Homo sapiens: one gene and its partners. Changing the gene in region 2 together with the main gene of any one other region gives a genetic interaction. Each region holds a gene or a part of one and is shown on either strand. Other genes may lie near its edges.

Region 1 (8,367 bases), on a different chromosome or scaffold from region 2:
CTTAAGTTTGACAGTTTCAGCATATTTTTCTGTATTCAGGCCTACAACATGATCAACAGCAATGCCATCCTTCTTGCCATTCTCTACTGTTGCTTTAATTGTCTGCTTTAAATTGGGCTCTGCATTTAAGTCATTTTCTTTCTTGGCCATGTCCACTAAGCCACCTTCTTTGGTAATATTCTCATTTTCCACAATCACGCCCGTTAACTTACTTCCAAGAGGCATGATTACCTTTCCTTGTTTACCATCCAATAAAGTAGCCTGGTGAGCTTCTGGAATGTGTCTTTTGCTAGTGATGCTTGCTTTTGCTGGTGTATCTACTGTGAAACCTTCACCACCTTCTTTGCTGTCACTTGTCTTAAGGACTTCTGATTCCCTAACAGTCAGACTTTGGTTAGGGAGAGCAGAGTGATCCGCAGGGGAGGTGCTGGCTGTGCTACCTTCCAAAACAGTTCTTTTGTCAAACAGAGGAATTACATCTGGATCATACGATTCCCTCAGAGGCACAACAGTCACTGAACTTAAGGATGGTGAGGAGTCTAAATTTGTGGAATGTTCAAGAGTGGCATCTCCTTGAGCAACATGTTCTTCAGCAGCTGTGTTTTTCAAATTCTTCTGTACCCTATCATTTTCTGATGGGGCACTCAGTAACATTCTATGAACAGTTTCAGAATCTATATTCACTTCAGTAGTTCCTCTATGAATGGGTTCTTTCTCCCCAGGGTTCATTTTGGACACAGCACTTTGTATATGCATTTTCTTGGTCAAGGTGCTTCTATGATCGGCATGCTTTTCAGAATTACTATTAACTCCTGTTCCACGGCCTGGCTTATAAGCTGGAGCTGTTGCTTTTGAATCTGCTGTGCAAGTTCTCAATTCATCCTTTTGAACAGTGGCAGAAGTTTTTTGTTTCATATTTTCAGAGTCAATGTCTTGCTGAGAATTATTATTGCGGTTGTCTTGGGTTTTAGATACTTCAAACACATTTTCAACACCTGGCTCAGAATCAATTTCCATTGGCTCTTGTTCAGGGATCAATGTCATATCACCACTCTTTTTTGGTCTCTGAAGGGAGGAACCGCTGGGAGTGCTCAAAGTGTTTGCTGCTAATTTTTCTTCTCCTTTGGCCATTTCTTGTGACAAGCTTCCTCTCCGATTTTCGCACAACCTTCTACTTAATTTCTTTTCCATGAGTGAACTATTACCTCTGGCCTTTTCATGACTACTGTCAACTTCTTTACCATCCTTGTCATCTGATTTATTTTCGTCCTTCTTTTTTATGTCTTTACTACTATGCTTTAAGCTTCTGCTTTTGTGGCCATCTGACAACTTTCTCTCAAGCCTGGTGGAAGTGGAGTCTTTATCACTCTTATATTTCTCCTTTGCTAATGGTAACTTGGCTCTATGACTAGAATCCTTCTGTGTACTATGTGCTGAAGAAGAAGCAGTCTCTAATACAGGTTCAACACCAGTTTCTTCAAAAGGTTTGTCTTCAACTTTAGACTTACGCTGTTTTTCTGAGTCATTTTCTTCTGTGTTCTTCTCCTTGTCTGGTTTTGGAGTGGTTGCCTGTTTTGTGGCACCTTCTTGTAATTCTGTTTCTACAACTTTTACCTGTTTGCCTTGAGTTTTTGATTTAGACTTCAACACAAGTTTCTCTTCTAACAAGCTCTTTGTTCGTCGTTTCTCCTTGTGAACAACCTCTTCTGGTTTCAAATTACTATCCATGTTAGTGGAGTCCATATCACACTTATCTTCCGAATAACTTTCACTTCTTCTCTGTAATGTGATACCATGTTGCTTGGAACCCAGAGAATCTTTCTGAATTTTAGAATCACTTGACCTTCTTGATTTGTGCTCTGCCTTAGTTTTTTCAGCTGACAAGCGTCTCTCTTTTTTGTTGTTTTCTTTACGAACATTCTCATCTGTTTTTATAATATATTCAGAAACTGGCTTTCCATCTTTGCCTAATACTGATAATTTCCTTTCATTCCTATGTTTACTTTTTCGTTCGGTTTTATCATCTGAAGAAAGCTTTGTTTGTTGACTTTGCTTTTGAATATTTTCCTCTACTTTTAAACCTTTCTCAGAAGAGTGAAGCTCAGTCTCATCACCTGTTTTATGCATACAATCACCTTTATATTTATGTTTCACAGACAATTTGTCTTCCGATGGAGTTTTCTCTCTTTCAGGCTTCTCCTTGGAGGATTTCACCTCTTTCTTAAGTAGGCTTTTCAAATGTGGTGTTTCAGAATCATCTTTCTTTAGATGCTTTTCGTTTTTAAGTGTGCTTTTCTGTTTCTGGGGCTCTTCGGTGCAAATTTCTGAGCGTTCTACTTGCCTTTTTACATCTCTTGTGTCAGTCTCTTCCTGTACCCCCTCCATGATAACAGGGGTAGATGTCCGTCTTTTATGTTCTCTTTCTAATTTGGATTCATTTTTGTTTTCGTCAACTACATGCAAAGACTCTGAAAGTCTCCGGGCAGGTTTACTTGGTTCACTTTTTGCATGAACATGCTTCAGCTCCTTTGAAGAAGAAATTTTTTCCTTTTCACAATGCTGAAAGAAAACAAAGGTTAAAATATGAGAAATACCAAAATCAATTTTTAGATTAAAACATAACATTTGGGTGGATTTAATATGTTGAGTGCTGTCACATATGTAACATCTCACTTAATTCTTACAAACAGCCTGTGTAGGTGTCAAAAACTCACCTGATTTTAAAAAATAAGTATTATTAACTTGATTTTAAGAAGCTAAATTCTTCAAAGAACTAACAGGAGTTTGCAACAACCATATTTTACAATAAAAAAACTAATTCTAAACAATATGAACAATTTTATGAGATTATTTCTCATAGAGATTTATCACAAAATAAAGTTAAATACTTAAAAATATGCCATTAAAACATCAGGAAATTGTAGCTCAGCATGATTCTATAACTTGACACTCAGACCACAAGTAGGTGTGTTAGGAATGAGTTTAGATTATTTCATTCCGAGTCTAGTACTCCTTCCAGTATATCACAGGCACTGATTTGTCTATGAATTCTTCAATTCTGAATCACTAGAACTCACTAATGCCCAGTACTCAATAATAAATATGAGCTGAATAAATGACAGTCAAATGTCCTTTTCAGTCAAAAACATAATACATGAAGGCAATTTAAAATTGAAATATACTGAAATATAGATTTCCTATATTTTAATTTAAAAAGCTGAATTATGTATGGAAACCTCATGAATTTAGGCTACTTGTACAATATTCTACACATGAAGCTTCAAATGTACACAATAACGCACAGTAACCATATCATATATAACATATGTATATGTTTATGTATTCAAAAAAAGATACGGAGAGACAAGAGCATCTAAACCTTCCTTCTGGCCCTGTGGTTTGGCACTAAGTAGGCGATTAATATTAATGAGTGGAGGTTGACTAAATCCACTTCAATAATACTCACTGACTACTAGCTATAATTATTCTTATGCAAATAATGGGCCAAAGTTCAGACGGACCTTTGTGCCTCTAGGTCAGTTTAACACTTCATCTCCTTAAATGTCAACACAAAGATTAATGTACTTCTACTAATAACAGGGTCCAGGACATAACAAGACCTTATTAAATAGCTTAAAATAAAATTCCTCAAAGAACTAACAGGAGTTTGCATCAACTTCACAATAAAAAACTAATTCTAAGCAATGTGAATACTATTTTATGAGATAATTTCTTATAGAGAATTATCATAAAAGAAAGTTAAATATTTAAAAATATGTCATTAAGCCATCACTATATACTTCTAAATACGCCTTTAATTTCTGAGTAAATAAATTAAATTTATGTTTGCTGATGATGAACAAATAATCACTAACATTGCTTTTTCCCTCTGGAAATATTAAGATAGTTTAGCTACAGAACTACAGATAATGTGGTTTTTGTAAAAAAGAATTTTAAAACAGTGAAAGCAAAAGTTTGTCCCACGAAAATAATCCTGAAAGGGGGAAGAAAACATTGTACGTTACTTTTACTGTTTAAAATGATCAAATCTTGGAAACAACCTAAGCGCTAAAATATAAGGACATGCTTAAATAAATTATGGTATGTACATTATATGTAACACTAGACAATCATTAAATAATTAGGATGCCTAGAAGGTAACATGAAATGAGTAAAATGTTAAAAACAGTTTGCCAGATTACTTGTACTCTAAAAAATTATGTGGACCCGTGGATAAGGAATGAGAGGGAATAAAAAGGATAATTTGTTATAGTGGAGGGATTTTAGATTTTAATTTTAGCCTCCCTTTTTCTTTTTTTGTCATTACTGGCATTTTTGTTATTGCAATTATAAGAAATGGGAAAAGAGAAGAAGAGTAGCTATTACCTAGATAAACGACAAATATATAAATCAACTCAACAAAATGGGCAATTTGGGACATAACAAAATGGGGTTTCAAAAATGCTGAATGTAAGTTGACTTTTTATTTGACTTGAAAAAAGTCAAATTACATTCTAAGTTTTACTCCAAAGGAATAAACAGCCTATATCTAACAAAACAGCATTTGAAATGAGGTTTTATTAAGGCATACCTCACTTGTTTTAAGGGTTTCTTTGGAATCTTCTTCATATTGCTGTTTCTTTTTGGAGTTCTCTTCAACATTCCTAAGGGGGAAAGAGTCAAATATAAAGCATGAATCAAATACGAAAATTTTTCAGGAAGGTTGAAAACAATAAAAATCTTTCCTTTACTATAATTTTTATTTATCTTATTTTATTATTATTATTTTTTGAGGTGGAGTCTTGCTCTTGTTGCCCAGGCTGGAGTGCAATCACGCAATCTTGGCTTACTGCAATCTCCGCTCCTGAGTTCAAGTAATTCTCCTGCCTCAGCCTCCCAAGTAGCTGGGATTACAGGCATACGCCACAATGCCTGGCTAATTTTGTATTTTTAGTAGAGACAGGGTTTCACCATGTTGGTCAGGCTGGTCTCAAACTCCTGACCTCATGTGTTCCACCCGCCTCTGCCTCCCGAAGTGCTGGGATTAAAGGCGTGAGCCACCGCGCCCAGCTGTTTACTATAATTTATACACTTGATCGACAAATGCAGACTTGTTACATTTCAATTTAAATCCTATCAATTATTGGTCAACAAAGGAGAGCACAATCCCAAACATAGCATTAACTGTTCTTGGTGCTAAAGGAAAGTACAGCTGAAACAAAAATTCCTAATTTGTTGCTTAAAGATGAATGCTTTATGGGCTATAATTACACTTCAAAATTACTATCTTTTGAGTAAAGAGGGCAGTCTTATTTATTCAGATCAATAAGGATGAGAGGTAATAATAGTAAGAAATTTGAGAGCTTACTACTCTTACCAAGTTCTGCAAATTATCAAATCAGTTATCCTGAAGTCTGTGATAAATTTACATAAATGCAACTTGATGGAATAGCAAAATTGCAGCCCATGGCTCACATGACTTCATAGCTACCCTCAAGAGTCTCTTTAGCTTTCTAATTCTTAAAAAGTTAACGATGATAATGCAGGGTTAATAAGGAATCTGGCCCAGATTCTGGGTTGGGGGAGAATCATGGAATACTGGTAAAAATAACGGCATGGAAAGACTGGAAATAATAATTGAAAATAAGTGGTTACTGAACACCAACAAGAGGAATACCTCCAGGGAACTTCTAGAGGATTCATAAACTCTTAAAGTCTAGGGATAATTGTTAGCTTATGCATGTACATTTTTCAGGGGAGAGGGTCTAAAGCTCTCACCAAATTATCAAAAAGATCTGGGACGCCCAAAAAGATTAGGATACACTACTTAGAAATGTTATAGATATTAACATTTTGATACTAAATATGAAACCCTAAGGTCCTTCATAAACATGCAGTAACATACACAACCAAAGTACAACTCTTTACTGTCACTTCAATTCCTCTCTTCTGAAAGCACCCAGGGGAGTGTTATAAGGGAAACATGACCAGATAAAATATGTACCTTGAATCTTTTTTTCTCTTTTTGCTTAAGGCTACTTTTTTTTCTAAAACTTTCCGTTCTTTAAGGACTTCTTTAATTCTGGCGGCTTTAGGTTCCAAACTCTTTGTTGATGATTCTTCTAAGTCCACACTACTCCTGCCTAGAAAAGAAGCAATCAATAAAACGTATTTCAGAAAAGTTTTACAAACAATGTAATATTAATTTTTCATTAAGATTTTTCTAATCATTGTTAAAGCCAAAATGGCTTTAATATTCTTAAGTTGTGCTGGAATAGATATAATATTTTGGATGAAGAAGTCTTATCTCTCTTATTTCAAATGATCACATAAGTGTGTGTATGTGTGATTTCATATATTACATAGGATTAGTGCCCAGAGGGAATACAATTTTGTTCAACACAATATTACAGGGAAATGTTTGACATTTTAGTTAACATAAGCATAGATTAATTTCATTAATCACCAGCAAGGGTTGATAACTCATGTGTTAACAATCTACTTTCCAGTGATTCAATCATTACAGAAAAATATACTGCTAACAAATGAGTTGCATAAGCTGGTTTCTGGTAAAATGTTTAATTTAGATTTAGCAATTTAATAAAAAAGAAAAATGATGAAACACATGAGATTAAAACGTAAGGAAATCTTCCACATTTGAGACTAGATCATTTTATTTTATATTCATGTCTCATAAGTAATATAAGAGTACCCAGAAAATAATGAAATATATGAGATAGTTTAAAATATTAAAAGTTGACATCTATACCTTGACCCTTGGTTTTTGAAGACTTTGTCTTTTCTGCTTTCTGTTTTCGTTTTTCTTCAAGTTTTTCTCTATTGATTTGCCTTCTTAAAAGCCTCTCTTCTTTTTCTTTGGCCTAAAACCACAAAATACCCTAACAGATTATTAGGCAAAGGCAAAAACACACTGAAAAATTGTATTTTTTTTAAAGTTTTAGTTTACCCTTCAGATGTTCTTACAAATTAACGGGCTCTGAAAAAATGCACATACACTACATATATATACACACATTTATCTCTGTGTGTATACATACATATGTATGTGTATGTTTCAATCTAGAAGCTACCAGAATAGAAGAAACAGATGTGAAAATTTGCCATTACTCTTTAAGAATGCCATTAAAGAAAGGGAAAGGTATAATTTTGGGGAAAAGTGATTAAATAAGCTGGTTGTTTCAATTAAAATGATAGCTGTGAAAATATCTATGAACATCAAGTATATATAGGTAGGTGTTTATAACTTTTCAACTGTTCTTATAGAAAACAGTTGAAATAAAAATTCAAGTGATAGGCTAGTTCTACAACATATATGACTTGCTGGTTATATGCTTGGGACCCAAGGGACTCAGGACTTGCAGGTCTTTTACAGCAGAAAGAATTCACAGTCATTGTGCTATTCCTACTATCTCTTTCTGGCTCAGAGTGCCAAAAATCCTAAGCAGGTGCATAACTTCTAACCAAGTAATGTTTTCAAAAGATAAGCCTGAAGGGAAGGCTAATCACTACTAGCATTTTGGGGTAGTTTCTTCAAATCATTTTCCTATGTGACAATATTTCCTGATTCTGAACTTTTCATATTTTACAACTTTTCATATTTTAATGTTTCTGAAATTGTAAGCTATCTTAAAACCAATATACATATGTAACAATAAGGTAGTAATTTTCTTTAAAAAGCTGTTATTAATTCAGTGGTACATTTTATAATTGGAAATATTTTTGAATCCAAGAAATAGGTAAATAGCATTTCCATATCAATAGTATGTTAATAGCTGCATACTGTATTTTTGCAGGACTGGATCTACACTTGATTTAAACATTTCCATACTGTGAAGCACTCAGGTTGTTACCAGTTTCACTACTACAGGTTGAGCATCCCTCATCTGAAAATCTTAACTCTTTGAGCACTGACATGCTGTCACAAGTGGAAAGTTCCACACCTGACTTCATGTGACAGGTGGCAGTCAAAATGCAGTCAAAACTTTGTTTCATGCACCAAATTATGAAAAACATTGTATCGAATACTCTTCAGGCTATGTGCATATACATATAAGAAACACAAAGGAATTTCATGTTTAGACTTGCATTCCATCCCTAAGATTTGTCACTATGTATATGCGAATATTCCAAATTGTGAAAAATTCCAAAATTTGAAACACCTCTGGTCCCACCCATTTCGGATAAGGGATATTCACTTGTATTAGTAATGATGACACAAACATCTCTGTCACATGTTTACATCTACTCTACCTAGTTAAATGACAAGTTTCCTGAAGGCAAATCCTGTATGTCTCTGCTTCATATGCACATCAGTACCTTGCAGATAGACTATTTAAGTTTGTTAAC
Region 2 (7,643 bases):
AAGGTGCACCTCAGCCCCACCTGGACCCTGTGGCCAGCCCAGCAGTCATTGGTGGGTACACCCCATCCCTTCCTCAATCAGGCAGCATACCCAGTCCCCACTTGGCACCAAGCAGACCCCTTACGACAGTCTAGGGATAAGGAGTTTAGGAACGCACCTTCCCTGCCCTCTGGAGTCTCACAGCCTGGTGATTCCAGGGAGGGGCAAGTTCAGCTTCCATGGAAACTGACATCTCGCCTTTGGGAAATTCACTCCTCTAGTTAGAGAACAAGGAAGTTCTGACTGAGATGGTGTTTATCAATCTTCTTCCACAGCCTCTCACTGAACAGGTGGGGAAACTAAGGCCAACATTCAGACTGAAAGGCCTCGCGTGAGCCCCCCAGCAGGTTGGGGGCAGACTCCAGGTCTCTCAGTGCCTGCCCCCTTAAGCTTCTCTGTCCAGGAGGCCTCAGGGTAGCCAGTGAAGGTCTGGGGCAGCTTGGCCTTTGCCCTGATCCCCCTACGGGCCTCACTCCCCTCTGACCAGTTAGACACTGCAGGCTCCGTGCCCTGCCCTGGGAGCCAGTGGTGCTGTGGCTGCAGCCCCGGGACCAACACAGGGTTTCCAGGAGCATTTTTCCCCAGGGTGGAAGCAAGGCCTTGTGGGACTGGCCAGCAAGTCCTGGCAGCAGCGGCAGCTGCAGCTCTTCCCTGGCTATGGGCTCTCAGAGGACGGCTGGCCCATGGTGGGACGAGCACGGGGCAGTGGGCCTGGAACTGGAGACGATGCCGAGCGGGGACAGGAATGGGGAGAGGCCCAGGGAGGCTGGGAACAGAGTCCCAGCTGGCAGCTCTGACAGTCCCAGCTCTGCCACGTCCTCTGTAACCTTGGTACGTGGCTTAACCTCTTGGAGGCTGTGTCCTGTCGAATGTGATGTCTCTAAGGATGAAGCAAGATGACACCTGTACAGCCCAGGGCCCGGCCCCAAGTGAGCTCCAGAGACCAGGGCCCGGCCCCGAGTGAGCTCCAGAGACCGAGGCCTGGCCCCGAGTGAGCTCCAGAGACTGGGGCCTGGCTCTGAGTGAGTGCTAGTCAAGTGTATGATTACTTTCCTCTGGCCCAAGACTCCATCCCAGATGACTTGGCGACTCTGACCCCATCAAACGCTCACACCCAGCTTGTATAAATTCCATTCGTTGATTGGTTTTAATTCGTTGAGCAACAGGTTTTGTTGGACAGCTTATGAGAATAAAAACCAGGGAAGCTGAGGCTCATTACCCTGCCCAGGGTCAAAGACCCGGCAGGTGACAGAGCTGAGATGTGACCCCATTCGACTGCCCTCACTGCCTCCCTGCACCTCAGATTCAGACCCCTCCTTAGGGCCAGGCTCTCTCTCTCTTTTTTTTTTTTTGAGATGGAGTTTCACTCTTGCCGCCCAGGTTGGAGTGCAGTGGTGCGATCTTAGCTCACTGCAGCCTCCACCTCCTAGGTTCAAGCGATTCTCCTGCCTCAGTCTCCCAAGTAGCTGGGATTACAGGCACCCACCACCACACATGGCTAATTTTTTTTATTTTTATTTTTAGTAGAGGCAGGGTTTCTCCATGTTGGCCAGGCTGGTTTCAAACTCCTGGACTCAGGTGATCCGCCCGCCTTGGCATCCCAAAGTGCTGGGATTACAGACGTGAGCCACCACGCCTGGCCAGGGCCAGGTTCTCTACAAGCACTGTCCTGTTTCCAGCTCCCCAAGAGCTTGGAGGCAGCCGGGGTTGTCTCTATTTGATGGGAAAACAGAGCGAGGCCGAGTGCTGGGCCCTCGTGCACAGATGGCCTGGAGAAGCAGTCCAGGTGCATCCTCCTGGAAGGTTGCTGCAACTTCCCAGGCTTGCTCAGGGCCTACCAGTTGCTTCTGCTTTGTGAGAGGGTAGGGTTCTGGCAGGCAGGAGTGTACCCCTCACTTGCCTTTGTCTCCCTGTCCCCACAGAGGAGAGGCGAGCCAGGGAGTGGCTACTAGATGCTCCTGAGCTCCCCGAGGGCCATCTGGAGGACTGGCTGGAGAAGAGAGCCAAGCGGCTGAGCTCAGCCCCAAGTAGCAGGTACAGGTCCCCAGGGTTCCCTCCCGCTGTGCCCCCTGGGGGCAAAACCCCAGCCCGCCTTCCCCTTCCTGAGGCTCAGGAATCTCCATGAACTGCCCAGGCCCAGGGGCCGAATAAAGTTGCCTACACATAGCTCCCCGAGGAGCCCTTGGGGCCCCAGGCCCTGGCCAGAGGCTGAGGGGTGTTTGAAAGAGCCTCTCCCAAAGCTGGGCCCCTGTTGGAGTCTGTGCTGGCTGGAGGGGAGGCAGGCGGCAGAGCTGATTTGGCTGCAAGTCACAAGTCCGTTGCCAGAGGGAGGGGCCTGGGCTGTGGTCACCATGCACTGCTGCCCACTGTTGCCTCTAGGGCCTTGCAGAAGGGAAAACAGGGAGGGTGCGACTTGCCCGAGGGCACACAGACGGGAAAATGTAGAGCCGGGATTGCACAGGCGTGATGACGAGGTCCTGGTCCCACTGCCTTTCTAAGGAAGGGGGTCTGGAGATGGCCCCAGCCCTCGGGACGCTCACAAGTAGAAGGGGAGCTGCTGGATCGGGGTCCTTGGGGTGTGTGCTTCGTGATGTCCCTGGTCCTCCTCTTTGAGGGAAGGGCCTCGGGTGATATTCACATCAGAACGGGGCACAGGGCAGGCAGGGGCAGACAAAGGCTGGCGGCCAAAACCGAAGCCTGAGCTCCTGGGCTCTTCCTCCAGCAGTTGAAGGAGGGAGGGGAGGAAAAGGGGATAAAGCTGCGCCCAGGAGCCGCATGCGACTTTGAACACGTTTTCCCATCCCGACTACCTTGCTTTCCCCATCTTGCAACGGGCTTCAGACCTGACTACCTCTGTGGTGTGGCTTCACAAAATGGTGGCCTGGCCTGGGCCAAGGGGACCTGGCCAGATAGTCTGGGGGAAGAGGCCTTCCCTTGGAGCTCTGCCAGGAGGTGAAGGCCAAACTTCTTGCCTTCTCTGTGCTCCAGTGAAAGAGACTATGAGGGTGTTTTTTTTCTTTCTTTCTTTCTTTTTTTGTGATGGAGTCTTGCTGTATTGCCCAGGCTGGAGTGCAGTGGTGTGATCTCAGCTCACTGCAACCTCTGCCTCTGGGTTCAAGCGATTCTTCTGCCTCAGCTTCCCAAGTAGCTGGGATTACAGGCACCCACCATCATACCTGGCTGATTTTTGTATTTTTGTAGAGATGGGGTTTTACCATGTTGGCCAGCCTGGTCTTGAACTCCCGACTTCAGGTGATCCGCCTGCCTCGGCCTCCCAAAGTGCAACGTGTTGGGATTACAGGCATGAGCCACCACACTCGGCTTTTTTTTTTTTTTTTGAGACGGATTCTTGCTCTACCGCCCAGGCTGGAGTACAGTGGTGCAATTGTCTCATTGCAAACTCCACCTCTTGGGGTTCACGCCATTCTCCTGCCTCAGCCTCCTGAGTAGCTGGGACTACAGGCACCCGCCACCACGCCCGGCTAATTTTTTTGTGTGTTTTTAGTGGAGACGGGGTTTCACCATGTTACCCAGGATGGTCTCAATCTCCTGCCCTCCTGATCCACCCGCCTCAGCCTCCCAAAGTGCTGGGATTACAGGTGTCAGCCACCGCGCCCAGCCTTTTTTTTTTTTTTTTTTTTTTTGAGATGGAGTCTCGCTCTGTCACCCAGGCTGAAGTGCAGTGGCACGATCTCGGCTCACTGCAACCTCCGCCTCCTGGGTTCAAACATTTCTCATGCTGCAGCCTCCCAAGTAGCTGGGATTACAGGCATGCACCACCATGCCCGGCTAATTTTTGTATTTTTAGTAGAGACAGAGTTTCGCTGTGCTGGCCAGGCTGGTCTCGAACTCCTGACCTCAGGTGATTCACCTGCCTCAGCCTCCCAGAGTGCTGGGATTACAGGCATGAGCCACCGCACCCAGCCAGTAAAGGTGTTTTAAAACTAACTTTGTCTTTTACCTTTATTTTAAATCCGTGTTCAGTTTTTGTCTCCCCACCTTAAAAGTATATGTGGTACAGACATGACTCAAACGTTGGAGTGTGACATTCTCTCCTCCTGGTCCTGTCTGAAGGGTCCCGTCTAAAGGGGTTCTATCCTGTCTTTGTGCATGTGAGCACCTCCTTTGGGACTGGTTGCTGTCCAGGGATCCACGTCCTACACCCCAGACTCCTTCAGCCCGTGTGCAAAAGGCTTGAGCTGGTTGGAGGCTGCCCAGAAAGCTCTGGCCCCTGCACCGCTACTTGGACAGGATCTCCTATGAGTCCCATCCTCACTCTGCCACCTGCTAACCGAGTTGCACCAGCCACTCGCCTCCCTGCTCTGGGTCCATGGTGTCCTCCGCTGGGAGCGAGTCACAGAGGCCCGGCTGTCTCTTGGGGCTGTGACAAGGTTTCATGGAGTCCCTGTGGCTGAACTGGAGTGAGCACCAATGGGTGGGGTAGAGATGGGGTGCCCCAGAGTCCTTGCCTGGGTTCCAGACAGATGCATCCCTGTGCTGAAACAAGGCGCTATGAATTTGAGACTTGGGGGACTAGGGTACCAGATGGGGAAACTGAGGCTGAATGACTGGCTCCTAGTCACAGGTTGAAGTGGTGACCATATGAGAATTGAGTTTGGTGCTTACAGTGTTCCCAGTGTTTGGGGGCATTCAGGGAGATTGGCACCCCCATTTTGCATCTGAGGAATCTTAACCTCTCCAGGAGGTGGGGCCATCCTGATCACACGTGCCCTGCTGCCCTTAGCCCTCACTTGAGAGAGAGCTAGGTCCCTGCTCTGTGTCTAGACCCCAGGCTGCCTCTGACACCAAGTTCAGGGCTGGCCCAAGGCTCTGTGTGGCTGTGGGTAGTGGCAGTGGCAGCAGCAGGCTGCCCTGATGGCAGTGACTGTTTTGGGAATGATTGTTCTGCAACTGGAGCCCACCTTGGCTGTAGGGGGTCTGAGCCCTGTGCTCTGGGCCATTGTCCCTCTGGCCACCCAGCCTGGCCCCTTCCAGGGGATCTGCCACCTGCCTTCCTCCTGCCTCCTGAGGGCTTGGGGCCAAAATGAATTGTTCTCTAGGCAGAGCAGGCCTGTCCAGCCTTGAGAAAAAGGGGCTGTGGGAAGGGAGGTGACCGTTTATTCCTGCTTTTGCCATTGCTGCCTTGGGCGTCCATAACTGTCTCCGGGCAGGCTGGTCTCCTGAAGCCTAGCAGCCTTTCCCTCCGTCCTGGGCTTTGAGCCCCTCCCCTGCATCCACACCCCCTACCCTGCTTAATGGGAGGGGGTGGATTCCAGCCCCAGCCCCCGCAAGGCTACCTCACTTTCTTCCTGGCTCCCTCTCCAGCCTGGAGGCAGTGCTGCAGCAACAATGTTCTTCCTCCACCCTGGCTCTCCTGGGCACCCCAGCGGCCCCTCCCTGGTCTCCCACCTTCCCTCTGCTCCCGCGGGGGATCCTCCACACAGCAGCCCTGATGCACCCTGGCCCTGGCGCTTCCCCACATCCTCCACCTCTGGCCGCACAGCCCCATTTGCAGGGCTGGGGCTGGGGCTGGGGCGGGGGACCCTCCCTGATGCCTCCGCAGCCAGTCGGATCTCACCTTCTCACCTCTTGCCTCTGGCCTGACTGGTGGTCCCACTGGACACTCGGCAGCAGCTTAGATGAGGCATCATTTGTGATTTTGGAGCACCTTGCGCATGCTATTTTCTTGCCTGAAACTGCCTCCCACCTCTCTGCCTGGCAGAGTCAGACTTGTCCTGGAAGCTCTAGCTGAGACATCACCCCTCCCAGCCCCCGCTTCTCCTGCATGGCCTGGGCAGACTTGGGGGTGCCCAGGACAGGTTTACTGCATGAATGAGCATTTAGGCTGCTGTTCGGGCGTTCCCCAGGTGTTAGTGCTGCGAGCCTTTTGTGGGGCCTGGTCTGGAAGCCTGGGGGACCCCCTCTTCCTCTCAGGGTATCTGCTTCCTCCCCCAGAGTACAAGGCACAGAGAGCTGCCCACCCCACCTCGGGGAACCGAGACCTGCGGGCTCCAACCTCCGCTGGCTGAGCTGAGCCTCTCCAGTGAGCCAGGCCAGCCCTCCTTGTAAACATGGGGAAGTGGGGGTCCATGAAGCCCCAGCCTGGTGGCATAGCTCTTATCCCCCTCCGCAGACTGACCCTGAGGGATCTGTCAAGAGCAGCGGCGGCCTCAGACACACAGACTAATCCCTCGGCAAGGCCAGGCCTGGCCCTGCTGCCCATTGTTGGCTCTTCAGTTTGCGACTCTATCCCTCTTAATCTCTCCTTTGCACCCCTCTCTGGGCGGGCGCTGCCATCCTGGCCCATCCTCCTCCTCGACTCTGTTTCCTCTGATTAGGACCGCGGCTGGGAAAATGCAAGAGAGTGGCTCCTGTCCTCACGCACAGGACAAACAGGTCACCAGAGAAGCTACGAGCAGAGTTGTGCCAGACACGCACCTCAATGTCCCCAAGGCTTTGGCTCACGTGTCTGGGGCCCTGGCAGTGTGCCAGTGTGTGTGAGCAGGCACTGGGTATGCCTGTCTACTGGCGGGACCTCAGGGCAGGCAGGGGCACGGGGCTGAGACTTGGACCCAGGAGGTCCCAGGTTCCCAGGAATCTGCCCCATTTTCTAGAGGAAGGGCCTGAGGCTCAGGGGAAGGGGCTCCCCAGGATCACACCCTCCCTGGGGATCCCCACTGTCCCTGTGGCCCTGCAGGGAGCCCAGGCTTGGCTGGCAGCTAGGGCACTCCCTTCCAGCAACTGCGGAGCCTCCCCGCCTTCTCTGCGGCTGGTGGAGTTTATGAAATCTCCCCAGTGCCATAAATCATGTCAAGAGCTGCCTTCTGCACTTTCTAGCAGGCAGTGAGCCATGAAGCAGGGGATGTCCCTGTCCTCTCACACCTGGGGGTCCTGGAGGCTGCACCCAGAGCTCCCCGGAGTCCTTGACTCTGCATGGCAGGTCTGGTCCAGAGAGGGGCAGGTTGGGTGGGTGCAGCAGGGGAAACTCCCAGGGCTCCTGACCCCGGCTCTCCACCTCCCCCTCGGAGGTCAGAGGCCTCTCCAAACCCCTCTCCGCAGGCCCAAGCCCTTCTCTCTCTGCAGAGGGCTGGCCACTGGGCCCCTGAGCCTGCCAGGAGCTGCCAGGGCCTCACCTTGCCTGAAGGCTGGATGTTGGGGTGTGGGAGTGTGCCAGAGCAGAGGGAGCTGAAGTGGGAAGGCCGTGTCTGCAGCCGATGTGGGGCTGGTATTCCAGGCCCTCAGGCCTCATCCCGAGGGTGTCACTTGGTCACGTGACTGACTCCTTGCACCTCAGTTTCCTCATCTATAAAATGGGGTTCGCCTGAGGATTCTTAAGGTTTCTCTAGGTCATGGTGTGTGGCCCAGAATAGCACCTGGTCAGTAAGATCTTTCAGCATTGCTGTTTGTTCCACAATCACTGGGTGGCCTCCTGGCACCAGGCCTGGCCCTGCGCCTTGGGGTACAAATACACCTTACCCCTATCCCCTGGTCTACATCCTCTGGGGACTCCAGTCCTAAGTGGAAGACAGATGAGCTCCTGCCTGAATTTTGGCGGCGGCTGCATGGCACTCTCTGCTGTGGATGTGGATGTGCATGTGTACTTT
Region 3 (3,262 bases), on a different chromosome or scaffold from region 2:
TTGGCACCATTGCTTTGTGAATATAAGGCAATATGAATAGTAGGCTCAGGAAGAAGATGTGGCCAAGGAAATAGATGGATTTATACACCTGTGGAGAGAGAGGCCACTAAGGTAGACAGGCCTGGAGTGTCCTTTGCAACCTTTGAGGTTGCAGTGAGTCCCTCCCAGTCTCACAAGCAGGCCTTCACTTGCCTTAAGCCATTTGTCCCACGTGAAGAGGCAGAAGGCAGTCATGGAGTAACCCATGAAGAGCCAGTGGATGGTCTGTTGCACCAAATAGTAGAAGGGCTGGAGGACAGTAATGGCGGCCAGCTTGCTCAGGGTGGGGCTCTCTTGAATGAGCCTGGCAGCCTGGGGAGGGAGGAGGAGCTCATCAGCATCTTGTCCCTTATATTCCCCTTCACCCCCACCCTGGAGGCCTACCTGTCTTTCCACAATAACAATGAGGAATTCCATCTGGAAGCAGACCAGGTATCCTGAGTGCAGGCCGTGCCAGAGGGCCAGGAATAGCAACGAGAGACCCTGAGAGAGTTCTTTATTTCCAAGGAACTTGAGTCGTTTGAAGATGTAGCTGGAGAAAAGGGTGGGTGGGGCGACCCTCAAACTGACTGGTCCTTGCATCCCGCCACCTGCCTCTGGGTCCTCACCCTGAGGATTGGATTGGAGTGCTGGTGGGTTCCCACGTGTAGCCCCCAGAGGGTACAGGAGGCAGTGCTGACTGATTACTTTTAGAGATGGAAAGCAGACCCAAGGCGGAGCTGGAGACCGTGTGCGCACGAGCCACTTGGTTCAGCAGCAGTGACTGAGGCTGATGCTGAGATCAGTGGTGAACCAGACACTCTACTCAAGCTGCCCACACTCTAGTGGTGGGGACAAACAAGTAAAGCTGTTGATAAACAGGGCAGTGGAGGACATAAGTCCATTGGCAGAGCTGGAGTAACACCCAGGTCTTAACGCACTTTTATATCTTGCCTTTTTTTCAAATATGACAGTAATGGTTTTTTTGGGAGGGGGGTATAGGTGGGGGTCAAAGTCAGTGTGAGCGACAGGGGGTTCTGCCCAGATGGGAAAGACGCATAGGGGTGACATGGTACACCCCTGCCCTCCAATCTGGGAAGACAGTGGAAGGAAGGAACCAGGGTCCAGGCTCCCCACCAGCAGCTCACCGGGCCACCCAGGCGTTGGTGTTGATGTTGAATGAGGCAATGGTGCCAGTGAAGCGGGGGTTTGTTTCAAAGAGCCACACCTTCATGTTGGCACAGGCATCCCACTTTGCCTTGCCCTTTTCTTCAAAGCCATTGAAGCCCAGGCCCGTCAAAATGCATACTCCTTCCTGAGAGGGAATAGCTCAGTTAGGGCTCTTGCCACTCCCCATACTGGCCCCCATGGCTTGTCTAAATAGGACCTTGTTTCAACTTTTCTACTTACTGTGACCAGCCAACAGGTGACATATTTGTACAGCACAAACTTGCCCCAGATCAGCATGTACATGCAGCGGAACCAGAAGGGGTGGTTCTTGAGGGAAGAAAGCACAGTGCATTAGGGATATCACATGACTAGGCAGTTTCTCTCAGCACTCTTCCTTTTCACACTTGTGGCTGGCTACTTCATACCTGCCTGAGTCCTGCTGCCAGATGCCCTCAATAGTCTGGCCTGATTGCCTTCACAATAGGCAGAGAGGAATAAGCAGAGGGCCTGGAGAATATTCATTCGCCTTTCCCTTGGAGAGCCTCAAGGGCAGCACTGTATTTAACTTCTCTACTGTTTGCCTTCGTTGGCAAAGTGTTTGGAATGAGCATTTGGAATGTTAAGTACAGAGGGGCCCATATTGGATTTTAATTTAAGGAGAGAAACCTGCCCAGAATTACTGAACTGTTTTCAAGCCTTTCAGCTGGGCAGGAGCAAAAGCCAGCACTTCCCCCCTTCCCTTGGTTTCTGAATTCCCTAGAAGTGCCCAAATGTATCAGTCAAGAGAAGAAAATAGGATGGAGAATCAGAAGCTGCTGTGCTCTGAGGGGTCACGTGGATGTGATAAGGCAAGCTAGGAGCGGCTCCTAGAGAAGGCAACGGGTGCTAAATGTGCACCTGGCACAGCCCTGTGCCCGCGAAGGTTGTTCAGTGCTGGCTGATGAACATGTCCCAGCACGGCTGGCATTGACAACTCACAGATCTAGAGCAAAACCAACATGCACTTGTAGATGATATTTCCTACTTCTCTGCTATCTGTAGGGATCCTTGCCTGTCCATTTTCTAGCTCTGGTGCAGTCATGCTGCTGCTGCTTTAGTAGACACTCACGTCATAGTCTTCAGTGAGGAGATAGTCTTCTGTGATGTGGGGGCTGAGCAGTGTGTAGCCCACTAGGTAGAAAAGGCCCAGACTCAGGCGCTTGAGAGCAGGAATGATGCTGGAAAGGAACGAGTGAAGTTCCTGGTCACAGAGAGCAGAGACTATTCCCTTCACCCTCTGACCTTCAGTTATGGAGAGGAGTGTTTAGGGGTGTGGTTGTCTACCTGGAATGGGATGAGAAGCTCTGCTGCCCAAAGTGTTTCCTGTTTCAGGGAAAGATTTCTATGGCTGGCTATGAGGAATGGGGACTGCAAACCTCTTAAGAGTTGTAGGAAAGTCAGGGCAGCAGACAGTGGACCAGTCTTGTGTTTACCCCTCAGGGATGCTACTGATCTCAAGGTCTTGCCAGGTCTCACAATCTCCATTGGGACTGAAAACCCAGTGGAGGTAAGATAATAAAAATAACCACTTTGAATCTGCTCCTTCATTTCTTGGTTGAATTGATGCTGAAACACAGGATGGACAAGTTCTCAGTGAAGGAATTCTTCTGGCAATTAAACTTTTTTTTTTTTTTTTTTTTTACCATTTTAATTTTTATTTTCTAGAGTCAGGGCCTTGCTCTGCCACTCCGGCTAGAGTACAGAGGCATAGTCATTGCTCGCTGTGGCCTTGAACTCCTGGGCTCAAGCGATCCCCTTGCCTTGGCCACCTGAGTAGCTGGGACTATAGGCATGTACCACCTTGCCTGGATAATTTTTTTTTGTAGAGATGGGGTCTCACTATGTTGCCCAGGCTGGTCTTGAACTCCTGGCCTCCAGTGATCCTCCTGCCTTGGCCTCCCAGAGCGTTGGCATTACAGGCATGAGCCACTGTGCCCTCCTGCATTTCCTACTGATAAATATTTTTGAGACAGGATTTTGCTATGTTGCCCAGAATGGAGTGCAGTGGTGTGATCAAAGCTCACTGCAGCCTTGA
Region 4 (7,853 bases), on a different chromosome or scaffold from region 2:
ACCACCCATGTGGGGACCTGGCCCACACCTAGGGTGTATCAGGAAAATGAGGGCTATGAGACTCCCATGCCTGGGGAAAGCATCAGGGGATGGTCCATGATAAGGAAAGGGACAGGGGCTGAAGGCATGGGAGTTGGGGGGAAATGGTAGGGTCAAGGAATTGTGGAGTGGAGGAGCAGGCAGGTGCTTACTTGGTAATTCCAGGAACAGCTCCCACGCTGCATGCGCGGCTGCGCTTCAGGCTATTGATCAGGCTGCTCTTCCCAACATTGGGAAGACCTACAAAATAGCAGCAGATGGCTCAGGGCAGAAGAGGCCCTCAGGAACACTCAGGCCAGCCTGTGTGAGGGAGGCCTAGCCAGGGGTAGTAACCAGGCCATGGGGAAGCCAAAAAATTGAGCCTGACCTCCTCCCTTCCCACCCCAGGCCCTGACAAAGCCCCTACAGGGCCTTTCTACCTCTCCCCTCCATTTGTGAGCATGCTAGATAGGTATGTCCCTCTTTCTAGACGTGACACCAACCTCCCACTCACAATCAGCCAGGCAGAGGTCCTCAATGCAAGGCCTCAGTGGCACAATCCAACAGAAGGTGGACATCGAGAAATGTCTAAGAAACAGAGAACAACCTGTCTGGGTGTATCATTCCATGGATGGGGATGGAGGTCATCTCCAGATGCCAGTCTCTCTGTGCAGCTGTCTACCTGAGGTGTGTATTTTGCTGTTTGTGCATCTGTCAGCCATTCTCAGCCTGTGGATGTCTTTGTGTTTCCCCTCACTGGGCCTCATTCTCACCGTTCTCTTTCTGTATGTGCTCAATTTACATGTGTGTACTATTGTCTCAAGCATATGCTTGTTTCAACCCGAGAAAGCTGATTGCCTAAAGAAAAAAAAGGTATATGTCTAAGTATACCTCTCGTGCATGAAGCCTCTGCACACCTCTCTCCCCCCTCCCTCTCTCTAGGTCATTCTCATTCTAAATTATCACCATGCATGGAAGTCTCTACACATCTCTCTCTCTCTCTCTCTCTCTCTCTCTCGGTCATTCCCATTCTCAGTATCACCACTTTTTCCTTTTCTTGTATCTCTCCCACTCAGTCTCTTTCTCTATCTTATCTTTGTTTCTCTCTGTGTCTCTGTATCTAAGCACCTCTTTCTCTGCCAATTTGTCTGTCTCTCATTCTGGCCATTGTTCTTTTCTCTCTGATTCTCTCCACCCCACCAATCCTGCCTCTATTTGTAATTCCCTCCATGCCAACTCCTGTCAGCCTCTGTCCATGCTCCTCATCTCTGTGGGCTGGTCACTTCATGGATGCCTCTCTGTATGTGTCTCACGGTGTCTCTTCTACTCTCTCCCTGTCTGCGCCTCCTTAACCTCCTCTCTGTATGTCTCTATTTCTCTCTGTACAGGTACACATACCTGCCTCATAGTGACATGTCTGGTATTTGTGTCCCTCTGTAACTCTAGGTATGTGATTATGTTCGAGGGTCAAAGTGTATGTGGGCACATGCGTGTCTTCTTTTTTTTGAGACGGAGTCTCGCTCTGTTGCCCAGGCTGGATCTCAACAGTGGCACGATCTCAACTCACTGTAACCTCAACTCACTGTAACCTCCACCTCCCAGATTTAAGCGATTCTCCTGCCTCGGCCTCCCGAGTACCTGGGATTACAAATGCCCGCCACCACACACATCTAATTTTTGTATTTTTAGTAGACATGGGGTTTCGCCATGTTGGCCATGCTGGTCTCAAACTCCTGACCTCAAGTGATCTGTGCGCCTCAGCCTCCCAAAGTGCTGGGGCTACAGGCATGAATGAGCTGCTACATCCAGCCCTCCTTGTGGTTCTATGCGCGTTGGGGGAGCAGCGTTGGGGTGGGTGTGTGTGGGAAGGGCTTGGTCTACATGCATTTTGACTGTGGTTCTGTCTCGCTAGATGTGCCTCCTCTGGATCTCTGGGTCTGTAGCGTGGGTCTGTGTATGTGTTTGTGGATCTGTATGTGTACTTAAGAGCTATGTGTATGTGTTCCTCTGTATCTACAGCCTTGTCCAGTCTGCTTCCATGTATGTCTCTCTCTGAATCTGTCTCTATCCCTGTAGTATGTTTTTCTCTCTCATTCTTTGAGAAAACATGTCTGCCTCTCTACATACATGGGTTATCTCTACCCTTCCTATGTCTCCCTCGGCAGATCTCTGTATGCATGTCTGTTTCTATGTCCCTTTTGGTGTTTCTGATTGTATCTCCCTCTTTACATGCCTCCATCATGTAAATCTGTCTCCTCTTTCCATTCCCCACCAATCCTGCCATCTGGCTTCCCAGTGCGTTCTCTGTGTCTTCTTCTGTATCTATCCTGGTATGCATACCTATACCTTCTCAGTGTCTAGCTCTCTCTCCAATGTCTTTCTCACGTGGCTTCACATTCTTTCTCTGGTGATCTATCTCTGCCTCTCTCAATTTCCCTACTCCATTCCCATCATCCCTCCCTCAGAAACTTGTGCTCCAGAAAGGCCCAGGTTTTGATCCTCAGCTCTGCCTTGTCTTGCACAGGGCTGGGCTCCAAAAGTCCCTTTGCCCTTCTCTGAGCCTCACTCAGAATTCTCATCCGTAAAAGGTAGACGGTCACCCCATCCTCCCATAGCTCTGATAGGATGAGATGGTACCAAGTCCAAGCCTGGCACCCTGTATTTGCTCCATGAATCTAATACTCAATACGCAGTGATGCCCACCCATCCAAGTTACAAATCACGAAACCCTTCTCCTGAACCACTCCTCTCTCCCCGCAAAAGACAATGAAGCTCCCAGGATCCTTTCCCCCAGCGAAGTGTCCGCTCAAGAAAGAAGCCTGAGCCCCATGACCACACAGCAGGTCTTACCCACAACACCCACACGAATGTGGGTGCGCACTTCACCAAGGCGGCAATAGTTCCCCAGAACCCTCATGAGGTTTTCAGCTCCAAAGCAGGCTTTGCTTTTCAGCAGTGACTCAGAGGCCTGATCTACTGGCACACTGCAACGATTCTGGAAAAAAAAATTGAATATCACAGAAGAGACATCAGGTGGCAGATGAGGTCTGAGCCCAGATTTCCAACTTTCAGGGCCTCCCTATGATCACTGAGCTCCTCAGCCTGAAACGGAAGGCTTCTCACACAGATCTTGAACACGTGTCATTTCCCCATTCCCCTCCACTGTCTTTGTGTCTCCAGTCTCCTCTGCCCCTGCGTCTGCTTCGACACATGTCACTTGCCTCCCTCGGCAGTGGCAGGATGGCATCCTGGCTCTAAATAGGCCAGGTTTGAGCTCCAGGTCTACTTCTCACAGGCCTATGTCCAGCAAAGCCTGCTTCCCTTCTCCAGGCCTCAGTGCCCTGTGTGCACAACAGGGATGCCCACCCTCCCTGCCTGCGCAGGGATGAGAGGGAGCCTGGCCCACAGCCTACCCTCCCTCAATTCCTCACACAGGACAAAGCCATCCCAACCTTTACTCCTGATGCCACTTCCTCTGCCCAGAATTCCCTCCCTCCTCTTCCCTTACTTTTTTTCTTTGAGACAGAGTCTTACTCTGTCACCCAGGCAGGAGTGTGGTGGCACAACCTTGGCTCACTGCAACTTCCACCTCCTGGGTTCAAACGATTCTCATGCCTCAACATCCCAAGTAGCTGGGACTACAGGCATGCACCACCACACCCGGCTAACTTTTGTATTTTTAGTAAAGACAGAGTTTCGCCATGTTGGTCAGGCTGGTCTCAAACTCCTGGCATCAAGCAATCTGCCCACCTTGGCCTCCCAAAGTGCTGGGATTACGGGCATGAGCCACCACGCCCAGCCACAGCATTGTTTCCAATATCACAAAATTGGAATTAGCCTATATATCCATCAATAAGAAACAGGTTAAAAAGCTGTAGCCTTAAAGTGGAATACAAATGAAATACAGCTGTTAGAAAAGGTGGCTTCTGGCCGGGTGCTGTGGCTCATTCCTGTAATCCAGCACTTTGGGAGGCCAAGGCAGGCGGATCACTTGAGGTCACGAGTTTAAGACCAGCCTGGCCAACGTGGCAAAACCACGTCTCTACTAAAAATACAAAAATTAGCTGGGTGTGGTGGCACGCACCTGTAATCCCAGCTACTCGGGAGGCTGGGGCAGAAGAATCACTTGAACCCGGGAGGCAGAGGTTGCAGTGACCCAAGATTGCACCAGTGCACCCCAGCCTGGGAGATAGAGTGAGACGTCATCTCAAAAAAAAAAAAAAGAAAAAAAAAAGAAAGAAAAGGCGGCTTCTATTTTTGCCATCAAAAAGGCCAAGAAGCTGGGCACGGTGGCTCAAACCTGTAATCCCAGTACTTTGGGAAGCTAAAGCAGGTGGATCACTTGAGGTCAGGAGTTCAAGACCAGCCTGACCAACATGGTGAAACCCTGTCTCTACTAAAAATACAAAATTAGCCAGACGTGGTAGCACATGCCTGTCATCCCAGCTACTCGGGAGGCTGAGGGAGGAGAATCACTTGAACCCAGGAGGCAGAAGTTGCAGTGAGCCGAGATCGTGCCATCCCACTCCGGCCTGGGCAACAAGAGTGAAACTCCATCTCAACAAAAATTTAAATTTAAATTTTAAAAAGGCCAAGAAAATGTAAATAAGGTATCATGTTTCTGAAAGGTTTAAAAGTTTAATGCTATCAAATGTTGCCAAGGGTGTAGGAAAAGAGGCCTCTCACACATTCATCTACCCCACTGGTGGGAGTATAAATTGGTACAGCCATCACGGAGGGTGATTCATCAGTGTCTAGGTAAAGGTAAAATGCAGAAAGGCTATGACCCAGCCACTCCCTTTCTCTACCTCACCTACAAACACACACTTGCCCATGTGCCAAGGAGACATGTACAAGGGTATTTGTGGAAGCCCAGGTTATAACGATAAAAAACTGGAAACTAATTGTATTCAGCCTCGAAAAGGCACATCTCTATAGAAAGATGTCCAAGAGAAAAAAAAAACTAAGCCACAGAATGATATACATAATACTTCCAAACAGTATTCCCTCTTTATATATACACTTCTATGTATATCCAAAGCACAGAATAACATTTGGAAGAAGGCCGAGTGCAGTGGCTTACGCCTGTAATCTCCGCACTTTGGAAGGCTGAGATGGGAGGGTCACTTGAGGCCAGGAGTTCAAGACCAGCCTGGGCACCAAAGCAAGACCCTCCCCCCATCTCTACAAAAATAAAAAAGATAAAAATTAGCCTGGCATGGTGGCATGCACTTATAGTCCAAGGTACTCAGGAGGCTGAGGCAGGAGGATGGCTTGAGCCCAGCAGTTTGAGGCTGCAATGAGCTATCATCACGCCACTGCACTGAGGCCTGGATGACCAATTGAGACCCTAAATATCTGTATCTAAAATAAATAAAGTCTGGAAGAATGCACACCAAACTGTCAATGGTAGTTACCTCTGGGCATGAATAAAGGAGACTAGAATTAGGGAGACTGGTGAAAGGGTATTTAAGCTTTATCTGTAGTTAATTTTATTTTTTCTACTTTATTTTTAAATAAGTTTAACATCCAATGCAAAATTGAAAAAAAATGTCCCTTAGTATCCAATTTTTCTCCCAGAAACAATCAGTTTCTGTATTAATATTTTACAAACCATACATATTTCTCTATTAATGATATAATTGGGAAGAACTGTGATTTGTTTCAAAGAGAAAAATGATTGGAGGTATACGTATTTTTTAAAGTTAACAAGTAGTTGGTTGTGCACAGTGGCTCACAGCTATAATCCTAGCATTTTGGGAAGCCAAGGCTGGTAGATCACCTGAGGTCAGGAGTTCGAGACCAGCCTGGCCAACATGGTGAAACCCTATCTCTACTAAAAAAAAAAAACACAAAACTTAGCCACAATCCTGGCTACTCTAGAGGCTGAGGCACAAGAATCACTTGAACCCAGGAAGCAGAGATTGCAGTGAGCCGAGATGGTGCCACTGCACTCTAGCCTGGGTGACAAAGTGAGACTCTGTCTCAAAAAATAAAAAATAAAGTTAGACCGGGAGTGGTGGCTCACGCCTGTAATCCCAGCACTTTGGGAGGCCAAGGCGGGTGGATCACCCGAGGTCAGGAGCTTGAGACCAGCCCGGCCAACACGGCGAAACCCCGTGTCTACTAAAAATACAAAAATTAGCCAGGCATGGTGGCACATGCCTGTAGTCCCAGCTACTTGGGAGGCTGAGGCAGGAGAATTGCTTGAACTTGGTGGGCAGCGGTTGCAGTAAGCCAAGATCATGCCATTGCACTCCAGCCTGGGCAACAGAGTGAGACTCTGTCTCAAATAAATAAATAAACAAACAAACAAGTAGTTAACTGTATTTTACAAATTCCCTATAGACATTATGTTTTATCCTTACAACTGAAAAAAAAGAAATGCTTCCTGAAGAGTGATAATACAGGAAGAAGTCAAGTGAAACTAATATTAAGAAGTCACTGGCCAGGCATGTTGGCTTATGCCTATAATCCCAGCACATTGGGAGGCCGAGGTGGGTGGATCACCTGAAGTCAGGAGTTCGAGACCAGCCTGGTCAACATGGCAAAACCCATCTCTACTAAAAATAAAAAAATTACAAAAATTAGCAGGGCATGGTGACGCGTGCATGTAATCCCAGCTACTTTGGAGGCTGAGGCAGGAGAATCATTTGAACCCAGGAGGTGGAGGTTGCAGTAAGCCGAGATCACACCATTGCATTCCAACCTGGGCAATAAGAGTGAAACTCCATCTCAAAAAAAAAAAAAAAAGTCACTCGGTGGAGCAAAAAGCTCAAAGTTGAAGGCCCAGTTCAATTACTAAAGGGCTGGAGGTCCCAGTCCAAGTCACGACCCTCCCAGCTCTGGCCCCAAACTACCCTGAAAGCGGCTAGATGACCCTAGCCCCAGGCTTACCAGGTTTTTGACCTGATGCTGGGTACTGGCCTTGAAAGCCACGGTTGGCAACTCATTCCGAAGGTAATCCAGCCATTTCTCCACAACCTCCTTGGGGACCAGGTCTGGGGTAAATATAGGAACAGATGGGGCTGGTAAGCAGAACAACACCTCCATGGTTCCCTCCAAAGACACCTCCACCCGTACCCAAAGCTAGGCCCACCTACCATCAACAGGTCTCTCAACTGGCCCTGTCATTCCCATCCAGTCCGCAGGTTGGAGTTAGAAAGGATAGTCTGGTCTACGGGATGCGTTAGCCCTCCCTGAAGGGGCCTCTGTTCCCTCAGGGAAAATGGACAAACTAGCTATCTGGTCCCAAATGTTCTCTTTCCAAAACAGCGCCAGGAGCATCAGAGACCCCCCAAATATTGTGTTTCCTATCCCCTCTCTGGATCATTCTAGGTTGGGCCAAATGACAAAGATAACCCTAAAAAGAATGGCTATCATGTGTGAAGTACTGACCACCATGTACCAAGCATTTTATCATTAATTCTTACAACAAATCTGTGAGGTTGGGATACCCATGGCCCATTTTACAGCTAGAGAAACAGGAGCTCTTGGAGGTGGCATGACTTATCCAGTGTCTCAGAGAAAAGAATCAGGACAGGTGGGAGGCTGAACCCTAGACATGAGTGACTCCTGAGCCCATGTGCTCCTCTGCCCCAGTCTTTGAGTTGAGGGAGGAGGAACTCTCCAGGGTTGTCCAAAAACAGAGAAGGCTCAAAATGGCAAGAACAGGGGACTGAAAGGCAGACAGGCTTGGATTCCACACCTAACTTGTACCATACTCTGTGATACAGGCTTTGAAAATCGGAACAAAAATTTCTACTTTGCATGACTATTATGAGTATCACTGAGTTGCTGGGTTCAGTGTCTGGTCCAAGCTAGACGTTAAAGAT

The links.
Region 1: changes in ZMAT5 (region 2) and BOD1L1 together harm fitness more than expected from each alone (negative genetic interaction), as found in Homo sapiens cells (one large-scale study listed by BioGRID).
Region 3: changes in ZMAT5 (region 2) and EMG1 together harm fitness less than expected from each alone (positive genetic interaction), as found in Homo sapiens cells (one large-scale study listed by BioGRID).
Region 4: changes in ZMAT5 (region 2) and GNL3L together harm fitness more than expected from each alone (negative genetic interaction), as found in Homo sapiens cells (one large-scale study listed by BioGRID).

Annotation. Positions count from the first base shown.
Region 1 is NC_000004.12:13,602,526-13,610,892, forward strand, and holds part of BOD1L1 (biorientation of chromosomes in cell division protein 1-like 1), read right to left. Parts: intron 6,882-8,367; coding exon 6,770-6,881; intron 6,144-6,769; coding exon 6,005-6,143; intron 4,665-6,004; coding exon 4,592-4,664; intron 2,560-4,591; coding exon 1-2,559. UniProt on the Homo sapiens protein: Component of the fork protection machinery required to protect stalled/damaged replication forks from uncontrolled DNA2-dependent resection.
Region 2 is NC_000022.11:29,732,760-29,740,402, reverse strand, and holds part of ZMAT5 (zinc finger matrin-type protein 5), read left to right. Parts: intron 1-1,961; coding exon 1,962-2,073; intron 2,074-7,643.
Region 3 is NC_000012.12:6,977,175-6,980,436, forward strand, and holds the end of EMG1 (ribosomal RNA small subunit methyltransferase NEP1), read left to right. Parts: coding exon of another isoform or gene 1-88; 3' UTR 89-192; coding exon of another isoform or gene 193-351; 3' UTR 352-423; coding exon of another isoform or gene 424-571; 3' UTR 572-1,166; coding exon of another isoform or gene 1,167-1,333; 3' UTR 1,334-1,428; coding exon of another isoform or gene 1,429-1,515; 3' UTR 1,516-2,296; coding exon of another isoform or gene 2,297-2,405; 3' UTR 2,406-2,762; downstream 2,763-3,262. Other genes in the region: LPCAT3 (lysophospholipid acyltransferase 5), read right to left, coding at 1-88, 193-351, 424-571, 1,167-1,333, 1,429-1,515, 2,297-2,405. UniProt on the Homo sapiens protein: S-adenosyl-L-methionine-dependent pseudouridine N(1)-methyltransferase that methylates pseudouridine at position 1248 (Psi1248) in 18S rRNA.
Region 4 is NC_000023.11:54,543,389-54,551,241, reverse strand, and holds part of GNL3L (guanine nucleotide-binding protein-like 3-like protein), read right to left. Parts: intron 7,020-7,853; coding exon 6,916-7,019; intron 3,014-6,915; coding exon 2,869-3,013; intron 280-2,868; coding exon 192-279; intron 1-191.